Regions from separate parts of the Homo sapiens genome. Here region 2 is linked to region 1. The links come from fine-mapping of genetic effects on gene expression. A gene starts in region 1. The other region holds a variant in brackets. All regions are shown on one strand. Distances are from middle to middle.

Region 1 (5,397 bases):
GGCTGAAGGTACCCAGAAAAAATTACTCTAGTACCTCAAACCATTACCTAGATCCACATTCTTAAGAAGGGCTTAGAGATAAATATTGTTTCTTTCAAACCAGGAAACTGTTATAGTTCAATAGTGGTTAATATTTTGGGTAATATTTTGAGTAATTTTCTGCATTTCTTATATTGCTATCGTTTCATTTTATTTCCAGCAAAATGTATTGCATTAGAATGTGGGAGAATTCAACTGAGTTGCTGATTGGATTTTCAAACTCATCGCAGAAATCACACCTTTGAAAGCCAAAGCTTTCATTTGTAAAACCTAGGCTTTTTAAGAGAATAAAAGTATTCTTGAAAATCAAAAGGAAAAATTCTAAAAAGCAGTACATCAGACTTGTGTCCCAAGCAGGAAATTAGAAACACAGTGGAAGATGATGTAAGAGCTAATTTTTCCTCCATATGTGGAAAACATACATGTACACACACACACACGGATGGAAGATCCGAGATATTAGAAATAAGAAAAGAGATCAAGAAAAATATATTTAGTTGTCCTCTAGAAGGCTCCCATCTTTGTCCTTCTGGATTCAGAGTATAGAAACCATGATTATTTTAAGAAACTCTGAGAGGAGAAAGAGCTGGTGCATTATTTCCTAAAGTGTAGCCCTGGGAGATTGCAAGTCTTTTAAAGAAAGCTATCCAGTATGGTCTTCAAGATAAGGAAGAAGAGATTAAGCAGGAAGGTCCCTGGACAAAACAAAGACTTTCCAAACTGAGAAAATGGGGGTCACAGAAGTGCTTAGAGAAAGCTGGTGGAACTGAAGATGTCTGGTTTTCAAACAAGGAGAATGTAGAGTGTATGGACCAAGGTAACCAGATGCCACTGCAGTATAGCAAGTATCAACAGCTGTGGTAGGCATGTACTGATAAGAAGGGAAAAGGAGAATATGTCCAGATGAGGACAAAAAGTGTCTATGAAGCCAGACACCTGATGCGCCAACTATATCTCATCAGTCTGGAAGCCTTACCTCTGAAACTTCTATTACTTTTGCTGAGCAAAAATATATGGTGAGTCCTAACTTTGTCTAATCATTTATTCAAAAAGAGAGTTGTTTGAACATTTAACTATAGAAAATATGAAATCTGTATCTGTTAAGTTAAAGCTATATCCTCTGGATGTGAATCTGAAGATTAAAATTTATACTTTCTAGGTATAAGAAGATTATCTGAAATAAATATATAGTGAAAAATTTAATGTTTTCTTTCTGGGTTTCCCATTTATTCTCCATCATAGACTGGGTTCTTTATATCAGTAGAAATAGGCATACAATATGCATACAAAGAGAAATGTCCTAATAAAGTAAATGGAAGGTGCATGAAAGAGAAATTCTGGAAGACAAATCAATAATATCTAGCTTGGATATTAGAGTCACATGGTCAGAACTGATTCCAGACTTCCAACTTACTAGTAACTTTGTGTTTTCTCATCCATAATTTGTGAATAATATCTACCTAGCAGCACTGTATGTATGAGATTAAATAATGAGATATATGTAAAGCATGTAAACTAGGGTCTGACACATAGCAAATGCTCAATTTTCTTATTCTTAATCTTACTGTTCTTGTCATTTATTATTTTACGAATTGCTATTTGTAGAACTTAATGTTTTACATTCTGATCTATGATTCTTATGGTCGGAATAATCCACAATAGTATAAATCTTGGTCTATGTTGAGAATTTCTTCATACAAACATAATTATGTAGCTCTTATACAGGCCAAACCTGCATTCATTTCTATTAGTTATATGCTAGAGGTAATGAATTTTTATTATTTATTTATGTATGTAGACACATTCTATTACCACTCTTTACCAACTGCCATTATTTTGGCTTAGGAGAAAATGATCTTGAAAACAGGTCTATGTAGTTTTAACAGCTCTTTTGTGAACTTCGGATGTAACTGAATCATTTTCTAGATTTATCTGTTAAATAAATGGTCCATGAAAGTATGTATGGGTAGATAATTGATGGAAGCAAATAATCCTATTGAAACATTTGCTATTTATTTTTGATACAGTTCTTTTAAACAGACTGATTAGTTCCCTTTATGATTTCACCCTCGAAAGCACACACGATTTTGTTCTTTATCATTGTTGCATGACATTCCATTTGGCAGTTGGGCTTATTTTTAGCCAGACTATCAAAGTATTTTTCAACTGGACTGTCACTGCACTTGAACTTGGAATCTTATAACTTGAAGAACTGCCCTGGAGAAAGGAAGAAACTTATAATAAATGGGAAATTATAAATCTAGACCAACCCAAACTTGTACTGGTAATTATTCTAATTATTCTTATTTCCTTAAGTGTAATATGGTTCAATTATAGTTACTGATAACTAACAACTCATTGGAATATGTGTTAATTTGTATACGGAAGATAAGGCAGCATGTTTTGTGAAAGTCTTTGAAAAACTATCTGAACTCAAATTATTTTTTTCTGAAGATCTTTATAGGAAACAAGAAATTTCTTACAAAAATATTATTTTAGTTCCTTGGTATAATGTTACAGAAAAAAATTTGGAATATTGCTGAATGTAGGGATTTTAGAATTATATCTTAAGTATCTAGTATTTAAAAACTAAAAACCGTCTTGCAACTAGAGATTGCTATAATTAAAATGCAATAAAATCAAATGAAATAAGTCAAATATATTTTTCTATGTAAATATATTATCCAATATCGAATGGGTTCTTCATTACTACAATTCAATATGATTGCATTTTAAATATAAACATCTGCATTTTAAACACACAATCAGTAATTTAAATTAAGTATTGTAGAATCTAGAATAAAAAACAGTTTTGATTACTTGTATGTTATGATCTGTGTCTACATTTTGCAAAACACAACTATGAATCAATCTCATTTGTTCTTCTTTACTAGATGAATGGAAGAAAAAAGTCAGTGAATCATATGTTATCACAATAGAAAGATTAGAAGATGACCTGCAGATCAAGGAAAAAGAACTGACAGAACTAAGGAATATATTTGGGTAAAGTTGTAAGAGTCATTATTTCTTTGTATAAGTGTCTTCAGTATTCACCTTATTTTTTAAAGTATCTGTATATTTTTTAAACCCGTAGAACCTCAGACATAAGCAGTCATGTTCTAAGCCTTAGGATGTCAGATTATCTCTCTTTGACCACTCATATAGCTCTCAAAATGCAAACATAACATCTCACCTCCTTAAAATATAAATTGTAATCTGCCATCATTAAAGTTTAAAAATAAAAACCTAAAGGCTAGCCTTTGAATGCAAGCTATTGTTGATCTCAGTAATCTTCTCAGGAATTAGATCATTCTTGTAAACCATGCCGGCAATGAAAAGCAAGATTTTTCTTCCCACATAGTGGTCGCATATTGGCCACATTGTTCTCTTTGAACTATGACGGTAAGTCCAATTTTAACAAACCCTCTGGTCTCTTGACATTGAAAGGCTGTCCCTTAATGGAACTGAGTATCATTCTGCCCCTGAACAATCATATAACAACATATAATATTGCCTTCAGGATTTCAGTAGATTTTGTTCCATGATAACAAGAGAAAAATAATCTAAGTGTCACAACCTTGGAAGACACAAAATGTTCAGAAAAGAGGAGCAAGACCCTTATATACACAAAAAGCCTTCTGGTTAAATTGAATCTGACATTGAGAAACTAGATGCCCATTAGAGGGTCAAGAAAGTTACCTGCCTGACTAAGGAAAAGTTCCATATAGGCCAATTAGCCATGTTCATTTATAGCTGTGTTATGTAATGCACTCATGGCAAAGAACTCCCTCTATTTTACTTAGAAAACAAGTGTAAAGCAATGACCAAATGACACATCTTTAAAATAAAATTTTAGATATAGTAAACATATAAATATCACATAATTGGCAAATAAAATCACCCATGTATAATATAGTTTATATGAAATTCGTCAATGGATGTAACAAGGCTTTCACAAGTGTTCAACTTATGGTTCAAAAAGTAGTTGGTTCTCTTTATAGTTTGGCCCAGGATGATGAACTCAACACTGACACTTGTGATGAGATACCACTGATCTGACTTTTGCAAGTAGTATCACATGTTGAGATATGGAACTACATTTGAAATTCCTGTAGAAATATGACTGGCATGTTAGTACAGTAGAATTATAAATATGTATTTGTTTTGTTGGAAAAGTATGAATATAGAAATTAATCATAAACATCTAGCTCTTATTGACTTAAATAAATATGCTAAATGAAATATGATTACATTGAAGAGATTTTCCTCAACTTTTAAAGGTCAAAGCCTCAGTTATTTAGTATTATTTTTTAATTTAGAAAGTATTGAGCACATAGGTGAAGGCTAGCTTAAACTAGATGTATCCAAACCTGAATATTAGGATTAACAATGGATTTAAAATGTAGGTTCTTTCTGATACCACATCGACAACTACAAGCTGTTTTGACAACTGCTATAATGGACTTTTCCTGTGTTTCTACTAAATGCAACAAATGTGACCTTCTTTTTTCTGATTAGCATTGGGGGTGAGATGCAGGAATCTGTGTCAGGGAGCTTACAGTCCAGAATTTGTTGAGTGCCAGCTCGTATTCAAGTGTTGTTCTGGATACATCAAATACAAGACATTATTTAATCTATAGTCATATGTAGATTGTTGTCATTTCATGTGTGCCGAATAATATTAACTCCGGTGGATGATAAACTAAGGATTAGAGACAAGGCAGTGGGAGTTGTCAAGTCACATGGTCAGTAAATTCTGGAATGTGATTTGTGTCAAGGTCTGCCTGACTCCATAGATAGCGCTCTTCCTACCATACCCTGCTTACAAAAACAAGATTTAGGTCCTGATTTATTCATTGATTTTTGGAATCATTGTAGATAAAAAGCATAGTTAAGTAAAGGTGTGTAGGCAAGAATGAATGAGTACCATAGAAAGTTTAGGAAAAGTGAGAAAAAATAATGTCTTCACCATATTATCTGACTTGAGTAAGAAAGCTATGTGAATCAATGTAAGAATTTTGGAGTCATACAAACATGGTTTTAAATACAGCTTCTTCTATTTATAAGCTGTATATCCATGGATATGTTTTTTAATCTCCTTAATCCTCATTTTCATCTATAAAATGAGGTGAATAATAATCACCTCACAGGATATTTTCAAAATGAGGTAAATTAAATACTAAGTACAGGGCCCAACCCATAGTAAGCATTGAGTAGTTGGAAATTTCTATTATCATGATTGATTGGATAAATAAGGACAGTTTGAAGGATAGAAGACTTATCATAAAGTGAGAGTAACAAATAGCTTATTAAAAGTTAGAAAGAGTGAAAGTTTTTATGAAGAGGATGATTTCAAAA
Region 2 (5,397 bases), 230 kb before region 1:
CTGTAACTGTGAAACAAGGAAGTAATTGGTTAAGCATTCTTAGCCATTTATAAAATATCCCCTAAGTGCCTTACAAGTTCTATGTTAGCTGTAGGAATAGTGATCATTAAGACAGGTACAGATATTTCTTTCAAGAATTTATTTAAACAGTTATTAAGTGAATTATTATAATTAATTAATTATTTGTTAACATTATGAAAAACCTATGAGGAAATAAAGGGTGTTATGAAATAACAAAACAAGGAACTGACTGAGTCTGAGAGGGAAATATCCTCCAGGGAAGTGCAATCTGAAGATCATCAGGTGGTAATTCAATTAAAAAACCTTATTGAGCCTTTACTGTATATATACCACATATATACAGCAAACTATACCACACTGCACATATTTTCGCATGTGTATAGAACTACATTTTTTGATAATAAGATGTGGTTATACAATGAAGGAATGTTAAGTCATTCACAAATAACTATAATAGGAAGCAGAATGTATTGCCACCAAAACTTGTCTTAATAAGTTTTTGGAATATCAGAGAAGAAAAAATTGCTACTGCTTCATTTTCTTGATAAGATTAGTTAAATTAAATAGAAAGAAGACACCGATCAGATTATTTGAGAAACAATGGCAAAAGACACACTTCTCAATGGCTTCCAAAGACCTGGCAGGGGTGACAAAGGCTGAATGAACAGCTTGCATGCTGGACATGATAATACCAGAGAGAGACAGCGTCCTCATGACACATCTTTAAGTATCAAATCCTAAAATAAAATGAAAACAATGGTCTTAAGGATTCTCTGGAGCTGGACTTTTTAGTAAGCCATACATAGTTATTGGGTTGTTAATTTGGGAATGTGAAGCTCAAGTTCCACTGGTTCCAAAAGCTTCCATTTTATTTCTCTTATTATTTTTTGTTGATAGGGTGAATTAGTAACACCCTTAGGTCAATTTTTCATTTGGGAAAAATGGTAGAAACCTGTCAGGCTTTTTATTAGCCTTTATATCAACAGAAATCCTGCGCTCCATAAATCTGACAATATTACATGTAAGAGTAAGTACTTAGATGATGGCTGAACTGGTAATGGGTATCCATGTAAAGCAGTATTTGTAATTTGTCAGACGAATTCAGTGAACACATTAGTTTGATCGTGTTTTTTTAAAGAAAAATTTGAGAGAATTCCTGGATGAAGAAGATCACCACCCTAATCATGAAAATAACCACCATTTACTAAGTGCTAACTATGAGGCACACCGTGATTAAAACCTGTAGTAAACATGACCTACTTTAACTCCCTCAATAAATCCATGAGGAATGCAATAGTCACCTTACACATGAGGAGCTTCTTCACTTATTGTCATTCAAAAAAACATATTTTATACCAGACATATTTTCCATACTCTGAGTATGCAGCCTAGAAAGTTTATTGAAAAGTGCTGGGAGCTACACTCAACAAGTAGTGGACTAGGAGTTGAACCCATAATTGCATCTACCATGTTATTTTCTTCAGCAGTTAATGGCAGTCAATCTTCAAATCTTAATTGAAATTTTGTTTGTAATCAATGAGTTGCAAACTTCATAGATCAAGGGAGAAAATAGATCTATTGAGGAGGAATATGTTTGTTGCTTTCCAAATTACATTTCTTATAACTGCAGAGAGCCTCACCTGCCTCAGTGGGCCCCTCTATCCATCACCTGCTGTGCAGAGCAGATTCCATGAAAGCTTTGATCTGCATGTGCTGTTTCTTTTAAATTCACACAGGATTTTTAAAGTGACTAAATATTAAAAGTAAAATTAATAAGTATTTTTAAGGTTTTTTAGGCCATGCATCTGATTCAGTGGACATTTTAAAAATATATGTTTTTATGTTGTATCTCCTCTTTTCTGCTTTGCTGGGAAGTAATCCTATGCCTTCTTTATTTCTGTAGCTCTGATATAGATGGACCTATCACCTAAATAAGTCAATTAAATCCGTAAGAGCTATTAGTCTACTGGTTCGATGACGATGTGCCAAGATTAAAGTAAATCAACTATGGCTGAAGATACTGGAAATGAATGAAGCAGAATCTTTGACATATATCCATCTTTACACACTTGATGAAGGAATAAAAAAATGCAGTGCATTGTAGTAGTGACTAATCTTAGATTTAGTCACTCTTAGGATTAGTAGCTCCAGATTCCCATCTTTTCCTTTCTCCATTTTTGCACAATTTTCAAACAAATCAATTCCTTATTCATAAAAAGCTTTTTCCGTAT[CATTAAA/C]ATTAAAAGTCTTAAACCAGTATATCATGATGTTGTTGGTTTTTCCATTTTAAATATGCCTTCATATTTTATTAGAAAATTACTTAGAATGCTGAGCAAATGTCTCTGGATATTTGGGCAATTATGCCAAACAGTCAAGACAAATATGACCCCTCTGAATGATCTAGTTTTGTAGACAATAGAGAGAAAACAATTGATTGTAAAACAGATCATTATCTGAGTCTTACAGATTTACTTTTAACAATAAGATTGTTGATTTTTGGCCGAGCTTGGTGGCTCACGCCTGTAATCCCAGCACTTTGGGAGGCTGAGGCAGGCGGAGCACCTGAGGTCAGGAGTTCAAGAGCAGCCTGGCCAACATGGTGTAACCCCTGTCCCTACTAAAAATGCAAAAACTTAGCCAGGCATGGTGGCTGGTGCCTGTAATTATGTAATTATGTAATTCCAGCTACTCGGGAGGCTGAGGCAGTAGAATTGCTTGAACCCAGGAGGCAGATGTTGCAGTGAGCCGAGATCTTGCCATTCCACTTTAGCCTGGGTGACAAGAGCAAGAAACAAGAAGAAGAAGAAGAAGAAGAGTATAGATTTTTTTAAGTGTATGAAAAATATACTGCTGTGACCTAAAAATGAAAATTTTCATAGATACTTTTACAATTTCCAGTATGACAAGGTCAGCTGAAATAATGTTCTTGTGATAATTTTTAGCCTCCCGATTTAGCTAAGGTTAAATGCAAAGAATACAAGTTATTTTTATGTTTACTCGAGTTTTGCCTTTTCGATTCATTTCATATTTTTTACCTGTACTTACCTGTACCTGTTTTAGCTATTTTTCTTTTCTTTTTTTTGAGACAGTGTCTCACTCTGTCACGTAGCCTGGAGTGCAGTGGCGCAATCTCAGCCCACTGCAACCTCCACCTTCCAAGTTCAAGTGATTCTCCTTCCTCAGCCTCCTGAGTAGCTGGAACTACAGGTGCCCACCACCATGCCCAGCAAATTTTTGTATTTAGCAAAATTTTGTATTAGTAGAGACGGGGTTTCACCATGTTGGCTAGGATGGTCTTGATCTCCTGACCTTGTGATCCACCTGCCTCGGCCTCACAGAGTGCTGGGATTACAGGCTTGAGCCACCACACCAGTCGTGTTTTAGCCATTTTTCATAGTAGGCCAATTCATTTCAAATACAGAAAATGTTATTCTTTCTCTATTTTTTCTCATTTCCAGCTTGGGAAACTTATTACAGCTGATATGAGACAGAGATTGATACAGTTGGTGCTGTTAACAACACTCATCAATTATCAACTGTGTACACAGTATCAGATTGCATTAGACACTGTAAAAGGATATAAGAAGAGGGGCATTTGCTTCTGCCTTCAATGCACATGCAATCTAATGAGATTTATATAATACACACCCATGGAAACATATGGTACACTAGAGAAACACTTTTTGCATATTTAACAGGCTCAAGGACCAAATTAATTATAGAGAAATGTGTTCATTTCTTTGTTCAAAAAACATTCATTAGGATTCCATTGCTAATAATATTAGGCACAATAAATTTCAAAAGGGTCATGAAAGACCCAAGCAGCTATAACAATAACATGGTAGTTAATTTTACAGAATGCCTAGTGCATGCCAAACCCTGGAGTTTTACATGCAGTCTCACTTATTCCTCCTGACAACCCTGCATGCAGGGTTGGGCCCTGTTTTCGGCATGAGGTAACTCAGGCTTAGACAAATTAAGTGTTTGGTCAGGGTATATAGCTGATAGTGGTAGAGTATGGATTAAGAACAAATTATTCCAAGTCCAAAGTCCAAGTTTTTCCCATTTTCCCACACAAGCTCTGGAATTGCTTCACCTGGCTAATCTATTCTGAATAATTATTTTTTTTTCTGTTATACTGCCTATATTTACCCTCTGACCTCAGCACACTATTATCCTTTTTTTTTGCACCTTTCTCCCTGTTTTAGGCTGTTATCAACTGTGCAACACAAGTATCACCAGTGCCACCACCAGCACCAGTGGCAGAGCACAACTTCCTGAGCGCTGCGAACTACATTTTCCTGGATGCGCTTTTCCAGGAGTGCTGGTACAGTTGGCCTTTGGGGGAACATTAACACCATTTGGAAGGTGAAAGTGAAACTGAAACTCCGTTGTTCTCCCGCGCGGGGTGCTCAGGCTTCCTGGAGTGCTTGTGCTCCAGTGTCTCCACCTGTGCTTCAGTCTGCAGTAGTGAGTGATGGTTGCCCAGTCCTCCAGCTGTCTCTCAGGCATTTCCCCTTCAACTCCTCACACATTCTTTAAACCCTAAATTTTCTAATAAACAACCTTTATTCCCAAAATACCTTACCAAGCTAAGACTGACACACTCTCTTCAATCTATAAAGCCCCCCTTTCTCACCTTCATCTATGTAATTGCAACCAATTTTTAGAAGGCAATTCAAGGGAAAGAGAACTAGCGTTTACTGAGCAGCTTCTGTGTCTGACGATGTGTGCTAAGTTGTTTGCATCATACCTGATTTTATATTCAGTAAGTCTTTATATCTAAAGTCACTTCTCACTCTCCTGAGCATCATTGCTATTTACTGATTCAACAAATGCTTACCAAGTTCTCATTATATATCAAGTACTGCGTTGCTTACTGATGAGAAAATGATAAGAAGGCAGGTCTGTACCCTCAAGAACCTTAAAGTCTGTGAAAAGAAAGTCAATGGGAAAATATATTACTATATGATAAAAAATAATGACAGAGATGTAGAGGGCCCTATGCATACGTGGGAGGGACACCAGGCTCAAATGGAAGTAGGAAGGTGGAGTGAGACAGAAAAATTTCCAAGTTTGTTATATGGAGGCAGCCTCTTAATTATGAATATAGGTACGCCAAAACCAGTAGCTTGTGAGTGCAGAATACTCCAGGCTAATGCAGCACCATGTTCAGAGTGGCTGTATGTGACTAGAACAAAAAGTAAATACCTGGTGGAGATGCGACTGAAGGCAGACGAAGAAAATAAATTTTAAAGGGCTTTCTCTCAGATGCTAAGTTGCTTGGGTTTTTAACTTGAAAGCAATGGGGGAGGCATTAAGGGTTTATTTTTTAGCTAAGGAGTGTAGGTACAGATTTATATTTTAGACAGATGA

The links. PIP is the estimated chance that this variant, and not a neighbour inherited with it, causes the effect. A credible set is the group of variants that fine-mapping cannot tell apart.
Region 2: its variant is the best candidate, but not a certain one, in a credible set for the expression of TNNI3K in T cells (TOPMed, PIP 0.64).

The regions. Positions count from the first base shown.
Region 1 is chr1:74,233,169-74,238,565 of GRCh38, forward strand. It overlaps TNNI3K (TNNI3 interacting kinase), which reads left to right and starts at 2,219. Exons shown (of 25, transcript NM_015978.3): 1 at 2,219-2,323; 2 at 2,934-3,042. The coding sequence starts at 2,284. FPGT-TNNI3K (FPGT-TNNI3K readthrough) reads left to right here. Exons shown (of 27, transcript NM_001112808.3): 4 at 2,934-3,042.
Region 2 is chr1:74,005,971-74,011,367 of GRCh38, forward strand. No RefSeq gene overlaps it. Among named protein-coding and RNA genes, the nearest start is that of LRRIQ3, 190 kb to the right of the region's middle. The variant CATTAAA/C (reference allele first, on the strand shown) is at 2,253.